Linked DNA regions of Homo sapiens: region 2 is linked to region 1. Evidence: fine-mapped expression QTL. A gene starts in region 1. The other region holds a variant in brackets. All regions are shown on one strand. Distances are between the middles of the regions.

Region 1 (15,344 bases):
TCCTGAGTTCAAGTGATCCACCCATCTCAGCCTCCCAAAGTGCCAGGATTACAGGCGTGAGCCACCATGCCCGGCCTTAATTTTTAAATTTTAAATTTAATTTTATTTTAGATTCAGGGAGTACTTGGTGCATGTTTGTTACCTGGGTATATTGCATTCTGGTGGAGATTGGGCTTCTAGCATAGCCATTACCGAAATGGTGAACATATAATTGGTAGTTTAATAGGTCTTTTTAAGAAGGTGAATTTGAGTGGAAATACTAGTGTTCTAGCAGAGAGGAGTAACTCGTGAGAATTATCTTAGTATATTTAAGAAACAGAAAGAAGAAAAAACAAGAATTTACAGTATACTCACAGTGATATATACTTGTGTGTCTGTGTGTTTCCTATTTTTATACATAAGCATTATGTGGGACTTTTATTTTTTATACATAAGCGTTATGTGGGACTTTTATTTTTTATACATAAGCATTATGTGGGACTTCTATTTTTTATTTTCTGTTTCTTCCTTCTGCTTATTACTGTTTTTCCATTTTCTTGCTTTCCTGTGGGCTACTTGAACTTATTTTAGAATTCCAGTTTTTAGCTATTGAAAGTATTTTTGAATATAGCTTTGTGGTTTCAATAGGTAGTATGATATATATGCCTAATGTCACAATCTACAGGTATTGATATGTTACAACTTTGACTAAAGTGTAAAAACCTCTCTTCCATTTAGGTCCCTTTACTCTTCTTCTTGCTGTTAGAGACAGGGTCTCACTATGTTGCCCAGGCTGGTCTCAAACTCCTGGCCCCAAGCAAGCCTCCCACCTCAGCCTCCCAAAGTGCTGGGATTGCAGGTGTGAGCCACTGCACCTGGCCCTTTCACTCTTTACTATAATTGTCTTAAGTCTTTCCTCTATATACATTTAAGTCTCACATCAGATGATGTTAAAATTTTTGCTTCAACCATTGAGCATGATTTTAAAAACTCACGAGAAAGGTAGTCTGTTACATTTACCCCAATTTTAACCCACTCCACAGTTTTTTCTGTCTTTTCGAAGTTCCAGCCTATTACCTTTTCAGTCAGAGATGCTCTGTGAGTCAGTCTTGAAGGGCAGTCAACCAATTATTATTTTGCTTCATCTGAAATGCTTTTATTTCTTCTTAATTCCTGAAAGGTATTTTTGGTAGATATAGAATTAGAGGTTGACAAATCTTTCAAGCACTTGGAAAATGTGCCACCTCCCTCTGGCCTCCGTGGTTTCAGATGACAAAGCTACCGTCATTCAAATTGTTGTTACCACATAGGGAATATATTGTTTCTCTCTTAACACTGAATATAATCACAATGGAATTTCAAATAAATTTTGCTAAAGGAGTTTGGCAAGATTATTTTAAAATTTATCTACAGCCAGGTGTGATAGCTCATGCCAGTAATCCCAGCACGTTGGGAAGCCGAGGCTGGAGGATTGCTTGAGCCCAGGAGGTAGAGTTTGCAGTGAGCCATGATTGCACCACTGTACTCCAGCCTAGGTGATGGAGTGAGGCCTGGTCTCGAAATAAATAAATAAATAAATAAAATTTCAGGAGTTTGAGACCATCCTGGCCAACATGGTGAAACCCTGTCTCTACTAAAAATACAAACATTAGCTGGGTGTGGTGGTGGGCGCTTGTAGTCCCAGCTACTCAGGAGGCTGAGGCAGGAGAATCGCTTGAACCCAGGAGGCAGAGATTGCAGTGAGCCAAGATCGCGCCACTGCACTCCAGCCTGGTGACAGAGTGAGACTCCGTCTCAGTAAATAAATAATAAAAAATAAAATTTATCTACAGGGGAAAACACATAAGATAGATAGTCTAGAAAATTAGAAAAGAAAGAGTAAGAGAGGATGTGCCTTACCAGAAAGCTACAGTAATTAAGACCATATAATATTGGCACAGAAATAGGCAACAAGATCCATGTAACAAAATAGAAGATCCAGAAAGAGACCCAAATACAAGGAAAATTAAGAGTGTAGGAAATATTTTAAAAATTGGTATATGAATACCCTTTTTAAACAAGAGAAATTCAAAAGCCAGAAAGGAAAAGACTTTTAGATTTGACTACGTAAAAACTTATAGCACAGGCTGGGCGCAGTGGCTCACACCTGTAATCCCAGCACATTGGGAGGTCAAGGTGGGCAGATCAGCTTAGGTCAGGAGTTCAAGACCAGCCTGGCCAACATGGTGAAACCCCTTCTCTACTGTAAATACAAAAAATTAGCTGGGCCTGGTGGCAGGTGCCTGTAATTTTAGCTACTTGGGAGGCTGAGGCAGGAGAATCGCTGAAACCCAGGAGGAGGAGGTTGCAGTGAGCTGAGATCGCACCATTGCACTCCAGCCTGGGCAACAAGAGTGAAACTCCACTTAAAAAAAGAAAAAAAATTAGTCAGGTGTGGTGGCGTGTGCCGGTAGTCTCAGCTACTTGGGAATCGGAGGCATGCAAATCACTTGGACCTAGGAAGGTGGAAGGTGCAGTGAACTGAGATCGCACCACTGCACTCCAGCCTGAGTGATGGAATGAGACTCTGTCTAGAGAAACAAAATTTTTTAAAAAAGCTTATAGCACACAGCCTCACTATATACAAGGGAAAATATAAGTAATGACTTGTGAGAATATACTGTACTTGCAACATATATACAAAAGGCATAAAATCCCACTATGCAAAGAGCTTCTACAAATTAATAATAAAAACATAGGACTCCTAATAGAAAAGTGATTCATAGCAAAATAATGTTTCATAGCCTTTGCTATGAAAGAAGATAGACACTAGTCAATGATCAGTTTCATATTATCATAAAAAGTAAATTAAAACACGATATCACTTTACCTTACAATATGATAAAGTTAAAATTTGATAATATGTGTCATTCCTTCAGTCAATAAATATTCACTGAGCACCAAGTAGCATAGTAGTCATTATGGGTACAGTGATGAACAAAATGGTGTCTAGACTCATAGTGCTTACAGTCTAGTGATGTAATCACTAACATAATAATCACACGAATGTAAGTACATAATTACAAACATAATTGCAAATTAAGTAAATGCTAAAGAGAGTAAGTCTAGGGTGTAATCACTGGGACCTTACTGATTATAATGGGATCAAAGAACATTTCTTTGAGCAAGACTTGCTTGGGCTGAAATCTAAAGGATGACCTGAAATGAACTAATGAGGTTATGGTGTGAAGGGATAGTCACCTTTTTTTCAGACGGAATTAACGTGCTCAAAGATCCTTAGACACGTGACATTTGAGGAAACAAAGTGCAGTTAGAGAGGAGGAAAGTCATGTAAGAAAAGCTTGAAAAGATGGGAGTAAGATCCTGCAGCCAGTGGACCATGGTAAGGACTTTTGCCTTTACTTAAGAACAATTAAAAGTCATCAAGTTATGTTAAGCAGAAGAATATGAGCAGAATTGCTTTATAAAAATCAGGCTGACTTCGGTGTGAAGAAAAGATGTGGGGAAATGAAGTGAAATCTTTGGCAAGATTCCAGGTTAGAAAGGATAATTTGGACAATATTAATAAAGTTAAACACACACACATCATTCTCTACATGTCCCCCAATTAATTTTCTTCTCTTCCGAACTTGTTTCTTTTCCTGGGTTCATCATCTCAGTGAAACAAAATAGCTATGAGATCTGGGTGAGTCATCTGTAGCCTAACTGGAAGCTGAAACCGGAAGAGTGGACAGGCTGTGGTATAAGAGTCTTTAAAGAAGGAAATTCTGTGAACATATCACCCAAACAAGAAACTTAGCTCTTCCTTCCCTTCCATCTAATTGGATGATATCCAATTCATCACCCAGTCCTTTAGATTCTCCCTTTAAATGGTTTTTTTTTTTTTTGAGACAGAGTCTAGCTCTGTCACCCAGGCTGGAGTGCAATGGTATGATCTCGGCTCACTGCAACCTCCGCCTCCTGAGTTCAAGCGATTCTCCTGCCTCAGCCTCCTGAGTAGCTGGGATTACAGGCGCGCGCCACCACGCCCAGCTGATTTTTGTATTTTTAGTAGAGATTGGGTTTCACTGTGTTGGCCAAGCTGGTCTCGAACTCCTGACCTCGTGATCCGCCCACCTCAGCCTCCCAAAGTGCTGGGATTACAAGCGTGAGCCACCACGCCTGGCCTTAAATTGTTTCTTAACTCATTCCCCTCAATCCATTCTCTGCAACAGTTCAGATTAGTTTCCAGAACATTTAACTATTGCCCCTAGTGGCCTTCTTCCCTTCAGTTCACCATGAACACAGGCTGTGGAATGCAAATATGATTACGCACATCCTCCTTCGAATTTTAATGTGTCTTCCTAGCTTACTGAGCGACATCCAAGCTCCTTCACAAGGACTTTTTTTTCAGTCTCATGTCTTTTCACCAGGCCAGTGAATTTCCTCTTTTTTTGCCCTCTTCCATTTTGTATAATGGGCTTTTTCTTTTTTGTCTCTCTTTTTCATAAACTGTTCTCTCGATCTGGAACAATACTCCTTTGATTCAGTGGGTTGACTCTTCCCTAACCTCGTATTTCAGCATACAGTTGGTGCTCTTCAAGCACAGGGATGTGACTGGCTTGCTTCCCCAAAACCTCTCCTACGTGCCCAGGACAGTGCCCCACACAATGCTGGGAGTAGAGGCGCCCCCAGGTCACTGGGCGTCCAGCCCCTGTAGGTGCAATCCAGCGCCTCTTTCCAGAAGGCTTCTGGGGGAGGGCTCGAGCTGGAGCACATGAAAAACCAGGGCCGCTCCAGCGTTCCTTCTCAGGTAACATGAGACTGCTCAGAGACTGCTCGAGGCTGGGGGAATCCCAGAGGGAGAAGCCATGGCTGTGCCGGTACCAAGTAGAGACTGGGCCGCTCCATAAGGCCACGAGGGACTCGGAGTCACATCCTCTGAGACCACTGTTTCAAGGTGACCTGGGAGCGTTGCAAGGATTCTGGTTATTACAGTTATACGAAGCCAAAGCATCAGGGGTGCTTGAATCAGAGCAACTCCATCTTGTTTTTTATTTTATTTGTTGTTGTTGTTTTGCTCTTTTTTTTTTTTTGACACAGTCTCGCTCTTTCGCCCAGGCTGGAGTGCAATAGCGCGATCTCAGCTCACTACAACCTTCGCCTCCCAGGTTCAAGCAATTCTCCTGTCTCAGCCTCCGGAGTAGCTGGGATTATAGGCGTGCACCACCACGCCCAGCTAGTTTTTGTATTTTTAGTAGAGATGGGGTTTCACCATGTTTGTCAGGCTGGTCTCAAACTTCTGACCTTGTGATTCGCTGGCCACAGTCTCCCAAAGTGCTGGGATTACATGCGTGAGCCACCACGCCCGGCCTGTATTTTTTTTTTATTTTTATTTTTTGAGATGGAGCCTCACTCTGTCGCCCAGGCTGGAGTGCAGTAGCGCCAACTTGGCTCACTGCAAGCTCCACCTCCCAGGTTCAAGTGATTCTCCTGCCTCAGCTTCCCAAGTAGCTGGGAATACAGGCACCCACCACCATGCCCAGGTAATTTTTGTATTTTTAGTAGAGACGAGGTTACACTCTGGCCTGTTGGCCAGGCTGATTGCAAACTCCTGACCTCAGGTGATCTGCCCGCCTTAGCCTCCCAAAGTGCTGGGATTACAGGCATGAGCCACAGCACCCGGCAACTCCATCTTAAATAAGAACTGGGTAAAATAAGGCTGAGGCATACTGGGCTGCGTTCCAAGACCGTTAGGCATTCTAACTCACAGTATGAGACAGCAGGTCAGCATGAGACACAGGTCATAAAGACCTTGCTGATAAAAGTTTACAGTAAAGAAGCCGGCTAAAACCCACCAAAACCAAGATGGCAATGAGAGTGACTTCTGGCTGTCCTCATTGCTACGTCTTCCACTGTCAGAGGCGGTTGAACCAGGGCAACTCTATCTTGAGTAGGGGCTGGTTAAAATAAGGCTGAGACCTGCTGGGCAGCATTCCCTGGAGGTTAAGGCATTCGTAGTCACAGGATGAGACATGAGGCTGGCACAAGATACAGGTCATAAAGACCTTGCTGATAAAACAGGTTGCAGTAAAGAAGCCGACTAAAACCGAGATAGCGATGAGAACGACCTGATTGTCCTCACTGCCCACCAGTGGCTATGGCAACGTCAGGAAGTTACCCTATATGGTCTAAAAAGAGGATGCATGAATAATCCACCCCTTGTTTAGCATATCATCAAGAAATAACCACAAAAATGCGCAACCAGCAGCCCTCGGGGCTGCCCTGCCTATGGATTAGCCATTCTTTATTCCTTTACTTTCCTAATAAACTTGCTTTCACCTTATGGATTCGCCTCAAATTCTTTCTTGTGCAAGATCCAAGAACCCTCTCTTAGAGTCTGAGATCCGGACCCCTTTCCAGTAGCAAAAGGTCTTAGACTGAAGTACTGACTCCACAGTCGTTGTTAAGAATCCTAGTTGTTTAATAGAGGCGGTCTTGGGCTCTTGCTGGGCCGCGGTGTGTTCTGGGAAGTGTAGTCACCTGAGTCTCCAGTTCCTTGTCTCTGGGCCGTGTGTGCACGCCAGCGAAGCACTGTGGGAGTCGTAGTAGGGGAGGAAAACCCTATACCCTCTGGCGTGCGGCGCAGGAGTTTGGGGGAATGTAGTCGCCAGAGCTCTGCGTTGTCTTCCGGCTTTGGGCGTGGCCACGATGCACTCTGGGAGTCGTAGTAGGGGAAGAACGTCCTCCGCTCTTTTGCGCACGGTCGCTAGAGGTTCTGGGAAGTGTAGTTGCCTGAAGCTCGTGTTCTTTGTCTTTCGATGATGTGCGCTTGGCCTCAAAGCACCCTGGGAGTTGCAGTGGGGCGGGGAAAGCCATATGCTCTCTCGCGCGGGGTCGCGGTTGTTTCTGGGAAGTGTGGTGGCCTGAGTTCCACGTTCTTCGTTTCTCCGCTAGTTGTGCGCTTGGCCGCGAGACACTCTGGCAGTTATAGGAACACAAAGGTCTGTGTACTCTTCCGCGGGGGGCCGCGGTTATTTCTGGGAAATGTAGTTGCCTAGGACCCGGGTTCTTTGTTTCTCGGCTCTGGGCGTGGGAGGATAGCCCCTATGCTCTGGCGCACCGGGCCGCGATGGCTCTGGGAATTGTAGTTGTCGCAGGCCCTCGTTCTTTGTCTCCTGGCGTTCTGGGCACGGCAGCGAGGCGCTCTGGGAGTTCCAGTAGGAACGAAAAGCCCTTGCGCGCAGGGCCGCATTGGTTTCTGGGAATTGTAGTTTCTTGAGGCCGGCGGCCTGGTTGGGGTGACGTCGGCGAGGCTTCTGAAGACGCAATTCCTGCGACGCCCGCGGAGGGGCCCTGGGGGGCGGCGCCGAGCGTCTGGCCTGTGTTGGCTGTAGGCAACGAAAGGAGCCCTCCCGGTCTGCGCCGGATGGCCCCGGGCGGTGACTCGGTCCGGAGCCCTGGAACGCTACGCCCACCTGGCGGAAAGCACCACGGAAACGCATCCTTCTGTGGCCACTGTTAGGTGAGGGGGTTCTGGGGAGGCGCGCCGTGGCAGGAAGAGAAAGCCGGCGCCAGTGGTCCAAGCGCGATCTCTCAGGGCGCCCTGCTCTCTACGTGGGAGGCGCGGAGCGGGGGCCACGGGAATCCCCAGTGCGGGAATCTAGTGACTTGGGCGCGGCCTAGCTGGCCTGTTCGCTCAGGGCTCCTTTCTCTCTCTGCCAGGTCTGCCATTTTACACTTTTCTGATCTCCTCCTTCCCTTCTGTGAGCTATGTCTCAGGTAAGCTAATGATTGATAAATATATATATATATATATATATAAATTTTTATTTTTTTTTTAAGAGAGAGACAGGGTCTCCTCCTGTCGCCCAGGCAGTGGAGCGATCATAGCATCCTGTAACCTCAAACTCTTGGCCTCAAGTGAGCCAACCCACTTGGCCTGTTTCCGCTTTTCTTTGTGAAGTGCAGCCGTGTTTTTCAGGACTTGGGACGTGGCTTTCTTTCTCCTACAACCACCTGCCTGGCAGAACCCCAGGACCCTGTCCCTTGTTCCTCCTTTTCAGGTGCTTATACTTAAGTATACATGAAGAGAGTGACAGGAAGCTATCCAGATGTGGGCGGGGTTTCTGACCTGGCTGGCATGTTTTAGGGTGAGAGGGTAGGGTGCCAGCTGTTACATCGCCTCCTCTTTCCCACAGTGTTAGAATGAGGAGTGCTTTACGTTACTCCAGCGCCCCTTTATTCATTTATTCAATATGTTTTTACTGAACCTCTACTTTCAGTGGTTCCCACAGTGTGATCCTTGGACCAGCAGTATCAGCATCATCTGAGAACGTATTAGAAATGAATATTCTTGAGTCCTACCCCAGACCTTCTGAATCAGAAACTGAGAATTTGGCCCAGCAGTCTAACAGTCCTTCCAAGTGATTCTAATGTGCAACTCATTCTAAGTCTTGAGGATGCAGAAGTGACCAAAACAAAATCTCCGAATCCTCAGAGCTCATTTTTCAGACATGACATAAGGAACACATTTTTATTTTGATTTGGCCTAAGGGCTTGGCTGGTAATTGTGCTTCACAGCAGTGGGGATAACAGGGTCAACTATTCAAAATGAGTCCCTCATTTCAGTTCCACTTCTTTATCCTACTTTTTGTCATACTTCTCTCCAAATTCAGAGGTTCTCTGAGTTTTGCTGGGGAATCCAATTTCCACCTCTGCTGCAGATCTTGCTGTGTAGGAAACAGCTGCTTTATTAGTCAACAGTCTTTAATCACTTTTTTATTAAACTTCAAAACTGTAAATTATAACTGCCATCCATCTGGGACTGCTACTAGTTTGAGACATTTTAAATTCCCATTCATGCCTTATAGATCAATGTGGATCACTCAAGTGGTGCAAAACCAGGCTGCAAAGCAAGGGCTTATATATTATTCCCCCTAACTCTGAGGGAAAGTGCTTTAGGTTCTGTCCTGGGAGGTATTACATTCTCTTCTTGCGGAATCAAGATTCTTTATTGCTTATCCTCCTTGTTCTGTGACATTGCTAAAATTACCACTAAGTTTCACAGGTATTTCTTTAGGATTAGGGATAACTGTGACAAACTTGAGACTGTATGCCCCATTTGAAGGGTGGTGCTGTTATCTGCTGTAGCGAATTATTACCCTGAAGAAATTCTGGCTGAATTATATTAAAATAGGCTGGTATTAAGGAAAATATACATTGTTTATTAACATAAAGGAATACTGTAAAATCTTAAGAATTTTTACAACCAATGCCAAAAATCCATATTGTTCATGTGTATAATCCTTTATTTTGAATAAAATTGTAAATTATCTCAGGACAGATAATTTATGTTTTTCTCCTTTTCTCCAGTTATACAACAAAACACAAGAGCTAGGCTCTTCATTATATAATTACTCAGAATTCTGAAAACTCTCACTGTTACTACTTAGACACATTGCCTAACCTCCACAGTGAGACTCATTTTATTCCTTGATGAGGGAGTTTGGGGGCATGCGTGCTGGTCATGCAAATATCTGTCCGTCATTTCAGGGGTCAGTGACATTCAGAGATGTGGCCATAGACTTCTCCCAGGAGGAGTGGAAATGGCTTCAGCCTGCTCAAAGAGATTTGTACAGATGTGTAATGTTGGAGAACTATGGCCATCTGGTCTCACTGGGTAAGTATTCTTCTTCATCTCCCTCAAGGCAAAATTTGACCGTTAGGGTGGCTGTTATAATTATCTGGCTGAATATTCCCAAGAGAGGTATGGGGTTTCTTAAAATTAGTTTTAAGATGGGGACGTAACTGCACCTTATTTTTAGACATTTTAAAAACTTACATCTGACATTTCCTTTGTGGCCCCTCTTAGGATTCAATGACTGATCTTGAATTTATTTCATTTTCTGCAAGCAGGTCTTTCCATTTCTAAGCCAGATGTGGTTTCCTTATTGGAGCAAGGGAAAGAACCCTGGCTGGGGAAAAGGGAAGTGAAAAGAGATCTGTTTTCAGGTGAGTGAGTTGGAAGCTGATGGGGAAATTTTTTAAAACCACTCAATTAGTCAATGAAAAAGGAATACTTTTTAATATGTTGATTGGAAAATTTTCCCTTAAAGATACTAGAGATACGCTAGGCACGGTGGCTCATGCCGGTAATCCCAGCACTTTGGGAGGCCGAGGTGGGTGGATCACGACGTCAGGAGATCGAGACCATCCTGGCTAACACGGTGACACCCCATCTCTGCTAAAAATACAAAAAAATTTGCCGGGCTTGGTGGCGGGTGCCTGTAGTCCCAGCTACTTGGGAGGCTGAGGCAGGAGCATGGCGTGAACCCGGGAGGCAGAGCTTGCAGTGAGTCGAGATTGCGCCACTGCACTGCAGCCTGGGAGACAGAGCAAGACTCCATCTCAAAAAAAAAAAAAAGATACCAGAGGTATAAAGACTGAAGTTTCACTTACAACTCCATAAAACACTACTTCATACCCAATTCTGTTTTTTCTATATTACCTAACAGCTGACATAGTCGACCAGTTCTCACCTTATACTTTCTTTTCTTTCTCACAGGTGTCTTTTTTGTTCCCATTGTTAGTTCTGTCTGGTCTCTGAATTTCATTTCTTTTTGTTTTTTCTTTCCTTTCTTTCTTCAAATGGACATACATTTCTATTGCCTGAATTCAACCTGAGAAAGAAAAAAAAAATTAAAAGTACATATTTTGCTGTTCTATTTAATCACCTTGAAAAGATTAATTCATTACTCTTTGATTAATTGATATTTATTTATTCCTTCACATACACTCTTAATATTTACAGAAATTTTAATCTTGTCAAATCTTTCTCAAGACTTTCTATTAAGTGCTACAGAGACTAGAGAGTGTGCAAAAGTGTAATAACTATCAAGGAATTCATGGCCTAGTGATGTGTCTAAATAGCTTGCATTAGATATCCTCAAATTAGCAGTACAGCAGTGAAAAAAGGAATTTCCAGTTGTCGTTTTAGGCTTGGGTAATTTGGATGCAGATAGTACTAGAGAAACAAAAGACAGAAAAAGGGTCAGTTTTGGAGAAAAGGTGATGAATTCTGTAAGTTCTGTAAATTCTATAGTTGCTTCTATAGCACATGTTTAATGGAGGTACACTGATTTTTAGAGAGAAAAGGAGGAATGCGTACTTTTTAGGAGGCAGCAGCTTAGGACTGATGAAACAGATGTCATGAAAACTGAGCTGTAGCTTTAAGGAAGAGTAGTGGTTCATATGAAATGCTGCGGAGTCCCTTAGGAGAATGTCCAGAAGGATTTGCAAAGGAGGTACTAATGTGGGCTGAAGCAGTGAGATGGAACAGGTGCAGGGAAACTTTGTTTAGTGGGAGCAAATGAGGAAAAATGTCCTTTTTGAATTAAAAAATAACAAAACTGATAAAAGCATGTACAAAGGAAGTGAGGAAAAAGGAAAACATGGAAGTTGCCTCTAATTCTACTACTTTTTTTTTTTTTTTGAGACGAAGTCTCGCTCTTGCCCCCTAGGCTGGAGTGCGATGGCGCGATCTCAGCTTACTGCAACCTCCGCTGTCTGGGTTCAAGTGATTCTGCTGCTTCAGCCCCCTGAGTAACTGGGACTACAGGCACCTGCCACCATGCCTGGCTAAGTTTTGTATTTTTAGTAGAGATGGGGTTTCACCATGTTGGCCAGGCTGGTCTCAAACTCCTAACCTAGTGATCTGCCCGCCTAGGCCTCCCAAAGTGCTGGGATTACAGGTGTGAGCCACTGTGCCTGGCCTAATTCTACTACTTTAACACAGTTCTTGAAGTTTTTATGTATTCCTTCCAGGATCTTATTTTGAAAATTTTTTTCATTGTGAAATATCACACACAGACAGAAGTAATGCATGAACATACATGTACAGCTTAATAAATTATTATAAGGCAAACAGTCACGTGACCAAGGTCAATAAACACAATACTGCTAGGTTCCTTGAGAGCCTTCTGTGTGCTCATCCTAACCCTCCAATAAAGCTAATCATCTCTTTGCTTTTATGGTAAAGTAGCTTCCTTGGTTTTCTTTATTGTTCCATCAGCTCTTTGCATTTGTGTTCACTATAGTTGAGGTTCATGTGTTTGTTAACTTTATATAGAAAGATTTATAATGTATTTATTGATTTGCTTCTCAAAATTATTTTTAAAATGTTTTTGGCTGTGCATGGTGGCTCATGCCTATAATTCCAATACTTTGGGAGGCTGAGTTGGGAGAATCACTTGAGGCCAGGAGTTGAAGACAAGCCTGGGCAACATAGAGAGACCCTGTCTCCACAAAAAAATTTTAAAAGCTAGCTAGGCATGGTGGCATGTGCCCATAGTCCTAGCTACTTGAGAGGTTGAGGTAAGAGAACCACTTGAGCCTAGGAGTTTCAGGCTGCAGTGAACTATGATTGTGCCACTGCACTCCAGCCTGGGCAATACAGCAAGACCCTATTTTTTTAAAAGTTAAAAGAATTTTTAACGTAATTGCTCTAATAGTTTTTTTCATTGTACGATAAGTATACCACAATTTATTCGTTCTACTATTGAGGGCTTCTTAAGTTTTTTGCACATTTAGAGATACTGCAAGCAATGCTGTTACTGTGCATGTATCCTGATACATATTGGCACAAGTTTCTCTGTGGTTTATATCTAGGACTGGAATTGCCAAGTTGGAGGATAATGCACCTCTTTATGTTATTAGATAATGCCAAAATGTTTTCCAAAGACCCTTGACTGACTTATACTCCCGCAAACCCAATAAGTGAATGCCTGTTGGGCATCGTAATTTTCATCTATCAGAAGGGTGTGCAGTGGTAGCTTGTGGTTTAAACTTGCATTTGTCAGGCCATTAATAAAGTTGAGCACCTTTTCGTATGTTTATTGAACATCTAGGTATCCCCATCTGCGAAGTGAATCTTGAAGATTTTTCTCTTGTATCTATTGGATTCTTTTATTGATTTGTAGAAGTTATATATTTTAGATAGAAATCCTTTGCTAATTGTATGTACTTCAAAATCTTTCACATGTGGCTTTTTTTTAACCTTCATAGCTTCTTTTGATGAACAGAAATTCTTAATTTTAGTGTAGTCAGATGTATCAATCTTTTCTTTTATGTTTAGTATTTTTTTAGCCTGTTTAAGAAATCTTTCCCTCCTAAGAGATTATGATGAAGACATCTTCCTATATTTTCTTTTAAAAAAGCCTACTTATTTTGCCATTCACATTTCGATCCATCGTTCACTTTATTTTGTCATGTGAGTTAGTAGTCAACTTTGCTATCTTCTGTATGGAGATCCAGTTATCATAGTACCATTTATTGATAGATCAACCATTTTCCTCACTGTTTTGAAATTAGTTAAATGTCAATTTTTGTGTTTGTATGTTTCTAGGTTCTCAATTCTCTTTCATTTTTCTCTTTGCTCAAATCTATACAGCCTTAGTTACAGATTTAATGATTAACATTTTATTGTATTTGTCTTACCCCTGCCCCTTTTTTTCTCTGAATTATTTTAAGTAAACAGGGCTACCATTTAAGAGTTGTTGCTGCAACCTAGTGTAGATCTAATCATTACCTGAACTATGTAGGCATCCAGGGAGCTAAGGGAGGTAGACAGATTGGAAATAAAGTGAAGAAGTAGACTCAAAAGGACCTGGCGATTGGCTAGATGACAGACATGAAGAAGACTGAGAAGTCGTGGTTGACATTAGTCTTTTTGGTGGTATGATTGTTTCCTTAGTTAAAAAAAAAAGGATCAGCAAGTTTGTAGGGGAGGGAAGATTATATTGAGACTTGTTGAGTTTGGGTCTCTGTGGGATACGAATATATAAATCCAGTAGGCAATTGAGTATCATAGTCAAGAGGCTTCAAATGCATATTCCTAGGCCCCACCCTGGAAATTCTAAATTGGTAGGTTTGGGGTGGAACCAAATAATTTGCATTTCTTTCTTTTTTTGGCTAGTCAAAAAAAAAAAGCGGGAGTGGAGGAGAAACAAAGAAATCTATAACTAGTTGTTATCAATGACTTATAAACTCCACTGCATTCAGACCAGCCAGAATTTGCATTTCTAACAAATGACCAGATGATGCTGATGCTGAACTAAAGTAGACATTTAGGAGTTACCTGCACAGCTTCTTAAAATTTTGAATTTTCTTTGTAGAATTGTTGCATACCTGTTATTTCTTCTTAAGCAACTTTCCCCAGTTTCTTTTCTATATTGCTTCTCTATAGGAATGCTAGTCAATTTGTATATTTATATCTCTTTATCTTTATTATACAAATAATACGGCTGAGTGTGGTGGCTCACACCTGTAATCCCAGCACTTTGGGAGGCCGAGGTGGGCAGATCACCTGAGGTCAGGAGTTCAAGACCAGCTTGGCCAACATGGTGAAACCCGTCTCTACTAAAAATACAAAAATTAGCCGGGTGTGGTGGTGTGCGCCTGTAATCCCAGCTACTCGGGAGGCTGAGGTGGAAGAATCGCTGGAGCCCAGGAGGCAGAGGGTGCAGTAAGTTGAGATCATGCCATTGCACTCCGGCCTGGGCGACAGCAAGACTCTGTCTAAAAAAAAAAAAGAAAGAAAAAGGAAGGAAGAAAGAAGGGAGGAAGGAAGGAAGGCTCTAAATCTTTCTAGATTTTTTCCTGCAAATACCATTATTGTTTATAGAATAATTTCACTGCACTAAAAATTCTCTGTGTTCTGCCTAATCACCCATTCCCAACCCTTGGCATCCGCTGATTTTTGTTACTGTCTCCATAGTTTTGCCTGTTCCAGAATGTCAGAGAGTTGGAATTAACCTTTTCAAAATGGCTTCTTTCACATACTAATACATAGTAATATGCATTTTAGTTACATGTCTTTTCATGGCTTGATAGCTCTTTCTTTTTAGCACTGAATAATATTCCATTGTCTGCATGTACTGCAGTTTACTTATATGTTCACCTACTTAAGGACATTGTGGTTGCTTCCAAAGTTTTGACAATTTTGAATAAAGCACATCTGTGTGCAGGTTTTTGTATGGGCATAAGTTTTCATTTCATTTGGGTAAATACCAAGGAGTGTGACTGCTGGGTCATATGGTAAGAATATATTTAGTTTTGTAAGTAACTGCCAAAATGTCTTCCAAAGTGATTGTACCATTTTGCATTCCCGTCAGCAATGAATGATTGATATTATCATGTGATTTTATTTTTTTATCACGATTGGTTGTTGGATTTTGCTAATGCTTTTATTGCTTCTATTGATATTATGTGATTTTACTTCTTTAGCCTGTTGATGTGATGGATTATATTTTACATTAATTGATTTTCAAATGTTGAACCAGCCCTGTATACCTGGGATAAATTCCACTTGGGCATGGAGTATAATT
Region 2 (15,344 bases), 670 kb before region 1:
AAGATAGTGGCGGGGCCGGGAAGACAGCCCAGCCCCAAGTCCCCATCGGCCTCCGTGCCCGGAGACCAGAGACCCCTGTGTGGGGGTCCCAGCACAGAGCCCAGCTGCCTTTGTAATGAGGGGAAACCAGCGGAGCAAGGGGTTGGGAATAGAACCAGCTGTAAGAAATGGTCCAAATCCCCAGGTAGAGGTACCAGGGGGTCAAGCCCCCTCACCTGGTCTCTGCCCAGATGTTTGCTTCCAGGAAAGCCATGCGTCAGTCAGCTGGGACCCACCGAGTGACAAACAGCCCCTCATCCAGAGGCACAGAACAACCGGCCCACAAAATGGCAGAGCAAGCTCAGTGTCACGTTGTCACCACCCCAGGACCCTGCCAGAGGACAGACAGGACAAAGGTCCTCAGAGGGCCACACATGACCACTGCTGAGAGACGCTGGTCACGTCCACTCAGCCAGACCTGTCACAAGGCCCCACAGGAAGTGAAATTCCATCTGCATCCAGCGTGGGAAGAGGCAGAACATTCAGGGAGGACCACCAGGGCCAAATGTCCACACGGCCCCAGGGGAGCAGGCAGGGCCTGGGAGGCTCAGACCCCGGTTCGGGCCAGAACATGGACCCCAGGGCCAGCACCACCCGGAGCCCCGAGGGGCTGCCCACAGTCTAGCGAGTAACGGCTGAGGGGCTTGGAGCCTGTGTGCCTCAGTTTCCTCACCTGTGACGTGGGCCATGATAGCACGCCCCTCACAAGTGTCCTGGGGGCCAAGTGAGTTCAGAACACTGCTCAGAGCTCACCTGCTGCTGATGACAAGTCGTGTCACGGGACCTGTTGTTTTATGACACACTCAACCCCACCCCACATGGAGCCCCGTCCAGTCAGCCGGCCCCGTTCTCTGCTGAGCCACCAGCCCTGGGGGTGGCCGGGCCAGGCAGGAGCCCCACAGAGGCCCCTCAGTGAGCTCAGCGCAGGCCCAAGCACCGCCGGTTTCTCTGCCGTCCACACCGTCCCCAGACGGGCCGCACCCCTGACGCAGGGAGGGCTTCCAGGCTGCACTCGCCCTCGCCCTCCCTGCCTCTCGCTCAGAACCTGTCCTGCCCAGCCCTGCATCCCATGTCCCTGCCTCTGGTCCCGAGCCCTGCCTGCCCCCTCCAGCCCCTCACGTCTCTAAGCCTGAACCTCCCTCACAGGCGTCACTGCAGCCACCCCACAAATCCTTCCTGATACCAAAGGCCAGCAGGCTGGGGGACATTTGGGAGGGGCCGGGAGCAGGCCCTGCCTTTGCTGCAGCCTGTGGGGGGCTTCTGGGCGGGAGAGGTAGGGGCAGGCCCGGGGGATGGGAGCTGTGGGGCCAGCCCTGATCCGCTCCTCCTGCTGGGTCCTGGACACAGGATCGATTTCTCCCTGGGATTTGGGCGTCCGAGTCAGTGGGGACCTGTGCCCCCAAACCCCCTCAGCAGCAGAACGCAGAGAGCCGCGGTGCCATCTCCACCCTGGCTTTCCAGGCCCTGGAGGGCAAAGGTCAGTCAGATGGAGGGAGCCCGGGGTCCCTGGCAGGAGTGTGGCCAAGTCCCAGCAGCGCTGCCCCGAGAGAGGAGGACGGCGCAGCTCCATTGCTCCACCTGCCCGGCTCAGGGATGGAACCCAGAGCTGCCACCGTCCTGTGGGTGACGGCAGAACATCTGGCTGCCGGGTGGCCTCCGTAACCGCCACACACCTGCCTCTGCTGGAATCACCTGAGGCTCTGGTGCCTCACACGGATTGGCCAAAACAGGGAGCGGAGCCGGGAAGGCCACGGACATCTGTGTGGTGTCACGAACAAGGTCCGGCCACGTGTGTGGGAGACGCGGGCGCCGAGGCAGGCGCCAAACTAAGCCCGGCCACCAAGGGGACGCCCACACCCCACCTCCGTGGTGACCCCTGAACCCCCGGAGCTCACCATCCACACCAGGGTGAGAGGAGAGGATGGGCAAGGAACCGTCAACCAGAGGGGATGCTCAGCTGCGTGCACGTGGCGGGTGGTACATGGGGGCTCGGGGAGGCACCCAGAGAGGATGCGTGTGTAGTGCAGAAAATGAGGCTTTGGGGCCCGCACACCGAGCCCAGGACAGCACGGAGGCGGGAGACACTGCCAAGCCCCCCTCACCCTCCTTGATGGACGCCCCAGAGTCTCACCCTATCCCCTCCCCAGCTCAGGGCGACAGGAGCCCAGCCACGTGCGTCCCGGGGCCGCCATCACAGCCCCTCAGAAGCCGCCTTAACACGGACTAATCCTGCAGACCTGGAGCTGGGAGCCGAGGGTGGGGCCTCTGCAGGGCCGGGTGCTTTGAGGCCCTGAGGGAGAATCGTCCAGGGCCCGTGTCTGCCGCTCCCAGGCTGGTCAACACCTTCGCCTTCCCCCAGCATCCTCCCTGTGAGCACATCTGTCCAAATCCTGATGTCAGGACAGGGTCACACTGGTCTACGCTCCACTCCGGAGCCAGTTACTTCGGCAGCAGCTCTGTCCCCGTGAAGCCACGTGTGGAGGAACGGGGGTGAGGATGGCAAAGGACCTTTTTGGGGGATGTGATTCAAGCCGTAGAGAAAGGAAACCCCAGCAATGACTGAGTTGGGATTTCTCACCACCTAGAGCGTGGGATCGAGCTCTAGAGCCGCGGAGGCAGGGATGGGAACCGAACTCTTGTCCACCGAGGAGCCTGGGAGGAGGCGGCCACACCACACCCCAGCCTTAGAGGGACCTGGCCTGGCCCTCGGTCCGCAGGGGGGCCTTGGGTCACCCCCAAGGCATCCTGCTTCCTCCCACCCCCGGGCAGTACAGGCCACTCCTCCCTGGGCCTGTCGTCCTCCCAGGGCTGCAGGGTGGACCCCCTGGGGGGTCTAGAAGGGCTGATCCAGGCCCCTGTGACCAGTTCAGGGAGCACCTCTGGGGTGGCGGTGCAGGGCTTTGTACTTCTCAAAGCTGTCGGGTGGTTCTAGCACGTAACCAGGGTCTAGAACCCCACACACACACAACACAGGCCCACATGCACCCGTGCACATGTGCACACACACACCTCCCCCCCACACATACACGGGCACCCACACACACACACAACACAGGCCCACACGCACCCGTGCACACGTGCACACACAGCCCCCCACACACACACGGGCACCCACACACACACATGCACACACACAGGCCCACACACACACACGCGCACACACACACAGGCCCACACACACACACATGCACACACACACGCACACACACACAGCCCCCCCCCACACACACACACGTGCACACACAGGCCCACACACACACACAGGCCCCCACACACATAGGCACACACAGACACACACACAGGCACTCACACACACACAGGCCCACACACACACATGCACACACACATGCGCACACACACAGGCCCACACACCCACACACACACACAGGCTCACACACACACAGGCTCACACACACACATGCAGGTGCGCACACACAGGCACACGCACACTCAGCAAATCAAGTGACTTCCCAGAACAAAGAACATCCACTTTAAGATAATTTGCTGCCTAGACGGTGAAGAGCCAGCATTTTTCAAAAGGCAGCTTCATTTAATCACAAACAAAACTGAAGTGCTGCCCCACGGCCTGTGTGGTGAGTGGAGGAGGGATGTGGACGCCAGGCTCTGCCCTGGCCGGCCCTGACTGTGGAAAGGAGCAGCTTGGGAGGAACTGCCTCCTCGGACAGGGCTTGGCCAGTCAGTTCCACTGACCAGAGGGTCTGGGGTATTGGCTATGGGATCTGGGGGAGTCCAGCCGGGGGTCACAGGGTCTGGGGGTGACAGCCAAGAAGGCTAGGGGTGTGGGCAAGGGGGTCTGCGGTGTCGGCCAGGGGGTCTGAGGTTTCCTGCTGGGGAGTCTGGGGGCCAGGGGGTCTGGGATGTGGGCCACAGGGTCTGGGGGTGTCTGGCTGGGGGTCTGAGGGTGTCAGTCAAGGGGTGCATGGGTGTCCGACTGGGGTCTGGGGTGTCAGTGGGGGCCTGGGATGTCAGTGGGGCCTGGGGTGTCAGTGGGGTCTGGGGTGTCAGTGGGGTCTGGGATGTCAGTGGGGTCTGGGGTGTCAGTGGGATCTGGGGTGTCAGTGGGGTCTGAGGTGTCAGTGGGATCTGGGGTGTCAGTGGGGTCTGAGGTGTCAGTGGGATCTGGGGTGTCAGTGGGGTCTGGGGTGTCAGTGGGGTCTGGGGTGTCAGTGGGGCCTGGGGTGTCAGTGGGATCTGGGGTGTCAGTGGGGCCTGGGATGTCAGTGGGGCCTGGGGTGTCAGTGGGGCCTGGGGTGTCAGTGGGGTCTGGGATGTCAGTGGGGGCCTGGGATGTCAGTGGGGTCTGGGGTGTCAGTGGGGTCTGGGGTGTCAGTGGGATCTGGGGTGTCAGTGGGGTCTGAGGTGTCAGTGGGATCTGGGGTGTCAGTGGGGTCTGGGGTGTCAGTGGGATCTGGGGTGTCAGTGGGGTCTGGGGTGTCAGTGGGGTCTGGGATGTCAGTGGGGTCTGGGGTGTCAGTGGGGTCTGGGGTGTCAGTGGGGCCTGGGGTGTCAGTGGGATCTGGGGTGTCAGTGGGGTCTGGGATGTCAGTGGGGTCTGGGATGTCAGTGGGGGCCTGGGATGTCAGTGGGGTCTGGGGTGTCAGTGGGGCCTGGGGTGTCAGTGGGGCCTGGGATGTCAGTGGGGTCTGGGGTGTCAGTGGGGGCCTGGGGTGTCAGTGGGGCCTGGGGTGTCAGTGGGGCCTAGGATGTCAGTGGGATCTGAGGTGTCAGTGGGGGTCTGGGGGTGTCAGTGGGGGCCTGGGATGTCAGTGGGGCCTGGGATGTCAGTGGGGCCTGGGGTGTCAGTGGGGCCTGGGGTGTCAGTGGGGGCCTGGGATGTCAGTGGGGCCTGGGATGTCAGTGGGGGCCTGGGATGTCAGTGGGGCCTGGGGTGTCAGTGGGGCCTGGGGTGTCAGTGGGGTCTGGGATGTCAGTGGGGTCTGGGATGTCAGTGGGGGCCTGGGATGTCAGTGGGGTCTGGGGTGTCAGTGGGGCCTGGGGTGTCAGTGGGGCCTGGGATGTCAGTGGGGTCTGGGGTGTCAGTGGGGGCCTGGGGTGTCAGTGGGGCCTGGGGTGTCAGTGGGGCCTGGGATGTCAGTGGGATCTGAGGTGTCAGTGGGGGTCTGGGGGTGTCAGTGGGGGCCTGGGATGTCAGTGGGGCCTGGGATGTCAGTGGGGCCTGGGGTGTCAGTGGGGCCTGGGGTGTCAGTGGGGGCCTGGGATGTCAGTGGGGCCTGGGATGTCAGTGGGGGCCTGGGATGTCAGTGGGGCCTGGGATGTCAGTGGGGCCTGGGATATCAGTGGGGTCTGGGGTGTCAGTGGGGCCTGGGATGTCAGTGGGGCCTGGGATATCAGTGGGGTCTGGGGTGTCAGTGGGGCCTGGGGTGTCAGTGGGGGCCTGGGGTTGTCAGTGGGGCCTGGGGTGTCAGTGGGGTCTGGGGTGTCAGTGGGGGCCTGGGGGTGTCAGTGGGGGTCTGAGGTGTCAGTGGGGGTCTGGGGTGTCAGTGGGGGTCTGGGGGTGCCATGTTAACCACTGTAGGCTGTCCTGCAGAGCTGCCTGGGCTGTTTTAGGACGTTGAGGTTCCAGAGCAGCAGGAGGTTCCCAGAAGACAAGCTGGGCTCCAGCACCAGGACCTGGGGTTTCTGGCCCAGAGACCACAGCCCTGTCTGTGCCGGGCGCTGAGGGTACGGCAGGTCGTCCTGGCGGCCTTCTTGCCAGTCCTGTCAGGTATCAGGAGCCTAAGAGGCTGGTGAGGGGCTGCCTGCCCACCCTTGCTGACTCCGGAGGGTAACCCAGCTCCTGCCCCGTCCTGGCCCTGCTCTCCGGAGTGGGCTGTGGTCGGTGGTCCAGGGCCACAGAGCGCTGCTACCCTCTAGTGGGTACCTGGGGTCCTGCAGCTCAGAACCGCGACCCCAGCCCACGGGAGTCTCTGCGTCCACGCACCTGGACGTCCTCCTGCGGCAGGCGCCCCGGAGGCCCCTCCAGTGTTCCCACCTCAGCTCCCGGGAAGACCTCAGGGTCTCCCCCCACCAAGGCGCTTCCCCCAAGGGCCCTCCCTGCAGCCCGGGACCCGCCACACCCTGTCCCAGCTGCCGCCCCGTGCTCGGTGATTTCGAAGGACACTGGCTGAGGTTTCTACACTATCCCTCAACCGGGGGCTCCTCCAGCGACCACAGTGGAGTGGAGGGTCTGGGGCCTCCGTCCAGGCTGCGGTGGTCCATCCCTCTGCAAGCCGCTGTTTCTGGGCTCCACGCTCTGGCTTCGGAAGTGGGAGCGAGTGTTGAAATCCAGCCACCTTCGGGGGAAGGCCAGTAGCTGGGGTCCCGCCCTGCAGGCCTGTCCCGGCGTACAGAGCAGGTGACAGCTTCCAGGAGAAGGTGTGTTCTGGGGCTTGAAGGTGCCGGCGTGCAGGGAACAGCAGGTCACAGAGCCCCTGGAGACCCAGGCAGGAGGCAGACCCCACCTAGGCCCGGGTCGCACGCAGGGCAGGGCAGAGGCTGTGGGAGCCGGGAGGAGGCCCGGGGTCTGGGGAGCCCTGCCCCACCCCAGGGAGCTGTGGAGCACCCCCGACCAGGCGTGGGTGAGGCTCTCCCCTCGTTTCACGGCCGCCATGCACAACCCGGGGCCCCCGTGGGTCTGGGGCCAGGACCCAGTTTCCCTGAGGTTGAGTCTCTGTGATTTCTCCTCCAGCAGAGAGAAGGGCCTGGGCCTCGGCACCTGCACCCCTGGCACAGGGACAGTTCTGGGAAGGGCGTGGTGCCCGTCCTGGTGGCTGGAGGACGGGACTGACCCTCTGGCCACTAGGGGTCTCTCTTGCTCCGCTCTGTGCCAGAGCCGTCGCCAGGAGCCCTGGGATCCGGAACTGGGGCAGAATCCAGGAGCAGGGTGGGCCCCGAGCTCTCAGGCAGCGCTGCGGCTCCGCCCACGGCCCCTGGCAGAGTCACTCAGCCCCAGGGGCCCGAGGATGCCCCCACACACACCTGGCATGGTCGGGGTCTCTACACCTGGCATGGGGCTCCCCGAGGCTGGCTCAAGGCTGGTGGGGCCAGGGAGTCTGCATTCCTGACGTGCTCCCAGGTGACGTGGATGCTGCTGTTGAGGGACCCCAGCTGGAGAAGCCCGGTCCCAGGTGTACCCCCCTCCCCACCCCGGCAGCTAGGCCTCTGCCTGAGAACCGCCTCAGGATCTGTCCCTGCCCAAAGTGCTTCCCCAGCTCTACGGGTACAGACTCCTGGTGCTCTCCTGGCCCTGCACCTCTCCACCCTCTGCCAAGGGTGTCCCGTCCCATAGCCCTGAGGCAGCAGCTCCCTCTCGGATGAGCCACACCACCAGCTCCGTCTCCCGTGCCCTGGGGTCCTGGCAAGTGTCCTGGGGCCGGCGGAGCTGCCGCCCCATCCTCAGGCTGCAGAGGGTGACACGGCCATTTGTCCAGGCTCCCCACCAGGCCCCTGCAAGGACAGTGCGGAAGGTCGGCTGTGGTGGCCTCTGGTGAAGGATGTCCCCTCCCCCAGGAAGTCAGGGGCCCCT[T/C]GCCCTCACTGTAGCAAACACACACCCGGGACCCTCTCCCAAAGTCACGGCCACAGCCAGGCTGGGGAGGGCACGGCTCCCACCCCACTGGAGGACGGGGCTGCAGGGCTGTCACATGTGAGAACCTGGTCACGGTGGCGTCTCTGGGGACCAGGCAGGAGTGTCCAGAGAAGAAAATAGACTCACTTCCCATCGTTTTCCCTTTTCTGCAGCTTAAGTTATATTTGACCCAAGGCCAGAGCTCAGTGAGGTGCCCTGGCCTTTTCAAGGAGAGGACGTATTCATTGCGCCACTCCAAGTTTGCCAAGTGCAAATGGCTGCTCTCATGACCGCCGCTGACTGGCTCCCAGCACGGCTTGAGCTGTTCTCTAAAAGGACGTCAGGCCAGCCTAATGATTAAGGCCAGCTCGGGGCAGGTGGGTGGCCTTCCCAGGCAGGACCGCCCTAGCAGCCTGGCCCCAGAGCCCTGGAAACCTGGTCAGCAACTCTGTCCTGGCCTCCCAGAGAGGCCCCCATGCCCGGGGGATCCGAGTGTCCCGGCTCCCGGCTGCCTAACGAGCCACCTGGAACTTAGTAACAGCCCACCCCATCCTCGCGAGTGAGAAGGATTCTTGGTTACAGGTGAGCCACAGCCCACCCAGCTTCGAGCCAGGGCAGGGGCCATCTCCAGATGTGGGGAGGGGTGCAGGTCCCGGGTTCTGAGGTTTGGAGGAGCACGTGGGGACACGGCGGCAGCCGTCTCTGGAAACACGACTGTCTGTGGTTTGAGGAACGCGTTGCCACTTCCCGATCCCGGACAGAGCCTTCTGCTGGACAACAGGCCACAGACGCAGCCAGTGCCCCCAGCCTGAGACCCCCACTCAAATCCAGCAGACCCTGAGGAAGGAGAGCTCAGGCCGAGAGAGGAAGGGAGGGGGCCCGGTCAGGTCTCTGGAGTTTAGACCTCATCCCTAGAGGGAGGGGGGCAGCAGAGGGTCCTCCCTCCCCACCCCACAGTGGGCTCCTACAGCAGGAGAGGCCTCTAAAAAGACTGATGGCCGGCAGCACCCAGTGTGGGAAGGGCCCCACACCCCGGGGGTCAAGGCCAGAGGGCGCAGAATGGCCCCTGAGGGATTATAGCCCGGGGCCCTGACGCTCCCTTGCTGCCTAGTGCTACTGCCTTGGCCCACCCCTGCCAGCCCCCAACACCCAGGGGTCCGCATGGAGCCCCCCACCCCCTTGCTGGCGGCAGCCCCAAAGAGGCAGGGCAGGGGGTTCTCAGCCAAGGCTGACCAGTAGCTCAGCGGGGCCCCGAGTCCCGCCGTGGCCATGCCACCAACCTGGAACCAGGCCTGGTGGGCAGGAGGTAGAAACGGACAGATCCCACCTACCTCTGCCAAGACCACACGCTGAAGCCAAACGCCTCCCACCCACCCAGCCCCACGGTGGTCCAGCCACCGTCCCGGTCTCTGCATCAGGGTCCTCTGTCCCAGCACAGCCAATAGCTTGAAATGACACCTCCACTACGTTGTTCACAGTGCTGGGGTCAGGGACTCAGGGGGCCTGGCTGGGGGGTCCTCACTGGGGTCTCTCGTGTTGTGCCGCTGGCCAGGGCTGTGTCCTATGAGGGTGACTGGGCCGGACGTGGGAAACCACTGGCCCAGTTGCTGGCTGGGCACTCCCTGGCTTGGTGGGGGTCTCCCCAAGGTCCCCCACACAGTGGTCCCGGGGTCAGAATCCTCAGGCAGTGGCCACCCCTGCAGTGCAGTGGCTCCAAGAACCAGGCAGAGGCCTTGGGCCTTTCAAGAGCCGGCCGCGGGACTAAGCCCACAGTGTCACCCCTCCACGGTCCACAAAGTCAGGAACGGCCGGACCCAGCTCTGTGGGAAGCATGGCAAAGCCAATGGGTACAGATTTCAGCACCGCCCCAGCCTCCTGCCTGTCCCCTGCCTGTCCCCTCCTCCCACGGCCCAGCCTCCTGCCCAGCTGGAGCTGAAACCAACACCTCATGTGCTTAGACCCACAGCACCTTCCTGCTTGCAGGTGAAAGCCCGAGCCAGGGCCTGCAGAGCCTGCGGGACCGGCCCAGCTTCCCCTCTGGCCTCTCACTGTGCTGCCCCGGCCGTGGCTGCACCACCTGCTCTGCTGCAGACACTTGGAGCTCTCCCACCGCCAGGCCCTTCCCCGCCTGCTCCTCCTGGCTCTCCATGCGGCCAGATCTCGCTCCGTGCGATCCGTGTGTCTGGCGTGGTCTCGTGCACACCTTTGCTTCCCATCTACTCTGTCCCCACAGGGATCTGAGGCAGTGGGACTTGTCCTCTGGTTTCCAGCTACTTCCCCAGCAGCTGGAAGGCTGCCTGGCACTTACAGGCAGAGCATCCCTCCTGCAAAAATCCAAAATCAGAACGCTCCGGAATCTGAAACTTTTTGCGTACTGGCATGAGCTCGGATGAAATGCATGAAATGCCCATTGGAAGAGTTTGCATTTCAGAGTGGATTTTCAGATGAGGGATGCTTAACTGAATAAGTACAAGTCAAATATCTAAAATCAAAAAAGATTACAGGTGCGGTGGCCCACACCTGTAATCCCAGCCCTTTGGGAGGCTGAGGTGGGAGGATTGCTTGAGCCCAAGAGTTCAAGACCAGCCTGGGCAACATAGTCAAACCCTATCTCTACAAAAAATAAATGACTAGCCAGGTGTGGTGGCACGTGCCTGTAGTCCCAGCTACTTGGGAGGCTGAGGTGGGAGGATCGTTGAAGCGATCAGGTCAAGGCTGCTGTCAGCTGTGATTGCACCAGTGCACTCCAGCCTGGGCAACACAGCAAGACCCTGTCTGAAAAAGAAAGAAAGAAAGAGAAGAAGGAAGGAAGGAAGGAGAGAGAAAGAGAGAAAGAAAGAGAAGAAAGAAGGAAGGAAAGAAAGAAGGAGAGAGAAAGAGAGAAAGAAAGGGAAAGAAAGAAAGATGGAAGGAAGGAAGAAGAAAGAGAGAAAGAAAGAAAGAAAAGAAAGAAGGAAGGAAGGAAAGGAAAAAAGGAAGGAAAGGAAGGAAGGAAGGAAGGAAGGAAGGAAGGAAGGAAAGGCAGGCAGAATCCAGGGCTCCTCTAGACCTCTTGGTGGAGAATCTTTATTCTAACAATACCCGCAGTGGTTTGCTGCATGTTGAGTGTTGAGAAGCTCTGTTCCATGAAGTGGGCCCTGGGGAAGGGAGTTCCGTGGGGAGGGGGTGTCTCTCCAACAGTCCACAAAAGAGAAACAGGGAAGAAACACCGAGGGGCTCAGAGGTCAGAGGCTCCTCCTCCATACCCTCTGCAGCCTGAGAGCTGAGTAAGTGTGACGGTGGTTGTGAATTTCTCCAAATATATTGTCTTGTTGATGTAAAGTTACCCAAATAAACTCTGGACCCTGCAGCATTCAGTGCCTGCTGAGATCCCTTCAAAAAGGCATAATTCAGGGCCGGACGCGGTGGCTCACGCCTGTAATGCCAGCACTTTGGGAGGCGGAGGCAGGTGGATCACAAGGTTGAGACCAGCCTGGCCAGCATGGTGGAACCTCATCTCTTCTAAAAATACAAAAAATTAGCCAGGCGTGGTGGCGGGAGCCTGTAATCCCAGCTACTCAGGAGGCTGAGGCAGGAGAATTGCTTGAACCCAGAAGGCAGAGGTTGCAGTGAGCCAAGATCGCACCACTGCACTCCAGCCTGGGCGACAGATGGAGACTCTGTCTAAAAAAAAAAAAAAAAAAAAAAGGCATAATTCAGCTGCCACATGATAACTTTCAATGGGCCCCTCATTTTACCTGCAAACTGAAAGGGGGGTAACTCCGAGCTGCCCTCTAACCTTTTCCTTCCTTCCTCCACTCAATTTTCTTGCCCCAGGGAGATGCTCTGAGCCCTCTCGCACCTCAAACCCTGAAATCCATTCTCCAGCCTGAACCCACAGGGCAGCTTTCTTCTCTCTGCCTCCCCGTCCAGATGTTTTCTGTAGATGACTTGGCGTCTGGCTGTGCCCTCCCAGCCCTCTGCCGCCCACACACTCCGTTTCGTGAAGGCTCTATTCTTCCTGATCCAGCTTCCTAATTTTTTTAATCGGAAATGTTCCAGGAGCTAAATTGGCAAAGACCCTCCTTTATGGATGAAAGGGAAGGAAAACAGAAAGCTTTCACCTGTTCCTGAATCTTGCCGTGGTCAGTCACGGTAACACGTGTTGCCTGACAATCCTTTTGTGAAGGCGGAACAGCCATCGGGTTTTGGACCGCTGGCTGGCTGAGCGCATTCAGGCCGGTTAATTCACCAAAGCACAAAAAGCAAAGCCGGAGTTAAGAGATGCATGTTCCCATGACCAAGAAGCGGAGAAGTGGTATCAACGGGGCATTGTTAGAGCTATTTCAGCTGCAGATGTGTGGAAAGAAGTGAAATTTTTAAAAAAGCTGCATTTTAAGGTAAAGAAAATTAGCCACAGAGGAAACGTGATGCATGGTAAGTATGAATAACAGCATAAAGGCTGGGAATAAATGTATAACCCATATACATGCTCTTGAAAGACTATTCAATGGTCTCTATCAGGGATTATTTGTTTGGTTGCAAAACCTAGAAACACCCTCATAATTGGAAGCCACATTCAACTCAACAAATTTTTTTTTTTTTGAGACGGAGTCTCACTCTGTTGCCCAGGCTGGAGTGCAGTGGCGTGATCTCAGCTCACTGCAACCTCTGTCTCCCAGGTTGAAGCAATCCTCCTGCCTCAGCCTCCCGAGTAGCTGGGATTACAGGTGGCCACCACCACGCCCGGCTAATTTGTATTTTTAGTAGAGACGGGGTTTCGCCACGTTGGCCAGGTTGGTCTCAAACTCTTGACCTCAAGTGATCCACCCACCTCAGCCTCCCAAAGTGCTGGGATTACAGGCATGAGCCACCGTGCTGGGTCTAAAATGTTATTTTAAAAAAGGAATCAATTGTTTTGTTGTTGTTGTTGTTTGGAGATGGGATCTCACTGTGTTGCCCAGGCTGGTCTTGCCCCATAATCAAAATGTTCCAGTGCGTCAGGTAAGAGTTGATCCAGCATCTCAAATGTTGCCACACTCTGCCTCACACAGCTGGGTCAAGTTCAGGCTGCAGAAGAGGCTGCGTCAGGTGACCGGTCAGGCACATAGCTACTTCCTTCCGATGCTTGGCTGTGTCCTGGCCAGTGGTGAGTTCAGAGTGGACCAACATCTCGTCAATTGGGCTTTATGATTTCGGGGCCTGGCCAATGTTGGTGTTTGCCTTTGTGATGACTGTGAGAAAAGACTTTGAAGCAAATCAATGGTGCAAAATATTGAAGGAGAAAATGTCCAACTTACTATTTAAATCCCATTAGCAGAGTCAACATTGCCATGCAAAGGGAGATTGCTAATTTAGTTTATATATATAGAGAGAGACAGAGTTTCGCTCTTGTCGCCCAAGCTGGAGTGCAATGGCACGATCTTGGCTCACTGCAACCTCCACCTCCTGGGTTCAAGCGATTCTCCTGCCTCAGCCTCCCGAGTTTCTGGGATTACAGGCACCCGGCACCACGCCCAGCTAATTTTTTGTAATTTTAGTAGAGACGGGGTTTCACCATGTCGGCCAGGCTGGTCTTGAACTCCTGACCTCAGGTGATCCACCCGCCTCGGCCTCCCAAAGTGCTGGGATTACAGGCGTGAGCCCCTGCACCCAGCTGAGATGGGTAATTTGGGATAACGTCATCGATTCATTAAGACAGGTCCCGCAGATGCATTAACCCACATCAGAGGAAACAGATGAGAGGACGCTAGAAATGGGGCTGGGAATCCCCAAAAATCCCCAGGAGACCCCCCAGACAGGAAACTCCTGTGGATGTGAGATGCCCACTGGACATCGCAGAAGGGCATGGAGCGGGCAGGTGGGTGTGAGAGGCTCAAACCACAGGAGGCATCCAGGCCAGTGAGAGAATAGGCAGGAACAGGCATGGAAGCCACGAGGCCGGGTGAGATGCCGGGGGTGAGTGTGGACGGGGCAGTGAGAGGATAGGCATGGAGGCCATGAGACTGGATGAGATGTCAGGGGATGAGTGTGGATGGGGTATCCACAGAGGAGAGACAGAGGAGAGGCTGTGGGTACCAGGTCCTGTGACCGGATGAGAAGCCAGGGGTGAGTGTGCATCAGGCAGAGGAGAGGCTGTGGGCACTGCGTCCCAAGGCACCCCCTCAGGAGGCGGAGGGAGGAGAGAGAACCAACAGCAACCAGCCCCATAGCAGGAGGACAGTGAGAAGGAGGGGATGGGGGGTGCCTGGAAGTCGAGGGAAGACACCGATTCCAGGGGAAGGACTGGACGGGTCGGCGTGGAATTAGGACACCCGGCCACTGCGACAGGCTCAGGAACAAGCACAGACCTCAGAGGCTGGCTGACATCATTCCTCCTTCGGATCATGGCCTGGGAAGCCCCATGGCATCTCCACTGAGACAGTCACACAGTCAGGCTCCAGGGAGGGGAACAGACTCCACCTCTCAATGGGCAACAGTCAGTTCTGGAAGAGCAGGAGGTCCTGGAAACACCTGGGGAAATGCGAGCAGCAGCAGGATGCTGGACGGCTCAGCCTGGCTGGCCCAGGGTCCAGACCCTCCCACTCCATGACCAGGGGCGGCAGCTCCCCCTGCAGACGGGTATCCTTGCCGGGGCCTGACCTGCCAGTCCACACTCTAGGAGCTGCCACTGGCAACTGTTCCACCCCACACCAATGTGTGTCAGGGTCTTTCTGATGCAAGTTATGGAAACCAACTCACAGAAAACAAGGGGATGAAGGACTTTTAAACACAGGCATCTGGGCGCCTCAGATTTCACAGAGGGCTCAGATAACATCATCAGAGCACAGTCATCTCCGCCTCTCTCTCTCTCTGCCCCTTTCCATCTGTTTCTGCCTCTCTTTCTCTTCTGTTTCTCTGTCCCTGTCTCTTTATCTCTATCTCTGTCTCTGTCTCTCTCTCTTTGCCTCTCTCCATCTGCTTCTCTCTCTCTCCGTCTCTCTCTCTCTTCTCTGTTTCTCTGTCCCTGTGTCTTTCTCTCTTTATCTCTATCTCTGTCTCAGCCTCTCTTTGCCTCTCTCCATCTGCTTCTGTCTCTCTGTGTCTCTCTCCCTCTGTCTAACTCTGTCTTTGTTTCTCTGTCCCTGTCTTTCTGTGTATCTCTCTGTCTCTTAATCTCTATCTCTGTCTCTGCCTCTCTCTCTCTGCCTCTCTCCATCTGTTTCTGTCTCTCTGTGTGTGTCTCTCCCTGTCTCTCTATCTCTGTCTCTCTCCTGTTTCTCTGTCCCCGTCTCTCTGTTTCTCTATCTCTATCTTCGTCTCCGCCTCTCTCTCTCTCTCTCTCCATCTGCTTCTGTCTCTCTGTGTCTCTCTCCCTCTGTCTCTCTGTCTCTCTCTTCTGTTTCTCTGTCCCTGTCTCTCTCTGTCTATCTCCATCTCCATCTCTCTCTCCCTCCTGCCGACCCAGCCCTGTCGGCCTCAGGCTGCTCCACTCCCTCTGGGACCCCAGGGGCCTCTGCACCACCTGCAGGTGCAGACTCTCCCCTCCTGCTCCTGCGAACCCCGCCAAAATCCCAGGCCTGGCTTTCATTGGGCTAGCTTGGATCACGTGCTCATCACTGAGCCAATCACGGTGTCCAGGCGACCCAGAGCCGAGACGGGAGCCAATCAGCAGCGCTGGGTGTTACACTGGGCAGGGCCTGGGTGGCCACGCCCCTCCCCTGAAGAAGGCGGACCAGGGCAGGGAGCAGCGGCCCCGGGA

Evidence for each region. PIP is the estimated chance that this variant, and not a neighbour inherited with it, causes the effect.
Region 2: its variant is fine-mapped to the expression of ZNF140 in hypothalamus (GTEx, PIP 0.98).

What each region holds. Positions count from the first base shown.
Region 1 is chr12:133,073,590-133,088,933 of GRCh38, forward strand. ZNF140 (zinc finger protein 140) reads left to right here and starts at 7,334. Exons shown (of 5, transcript NM_003440.4): 1 at 7,334-7,483; 2 at 7,684-7,740; 3 at 9,514-9,640; 4 at 9,877-9,972. The coding sequence starts at 7,732. RefSeq lists enhancers at 6,363-7,052, 7,123-7,322.
Region 2 is chr12:132,408,229-132,423,572 of GRCh38, forward strand. No RefSeq gene overlaps it. Among named protein-coding and RNA genes, the nearest start is that of MUC8, 59 kb to the right of the region's middle. RefSeq lists a silencer at 6,715-6,853. The variant T/C (reference allele first, on the strand shown) is at 7,586.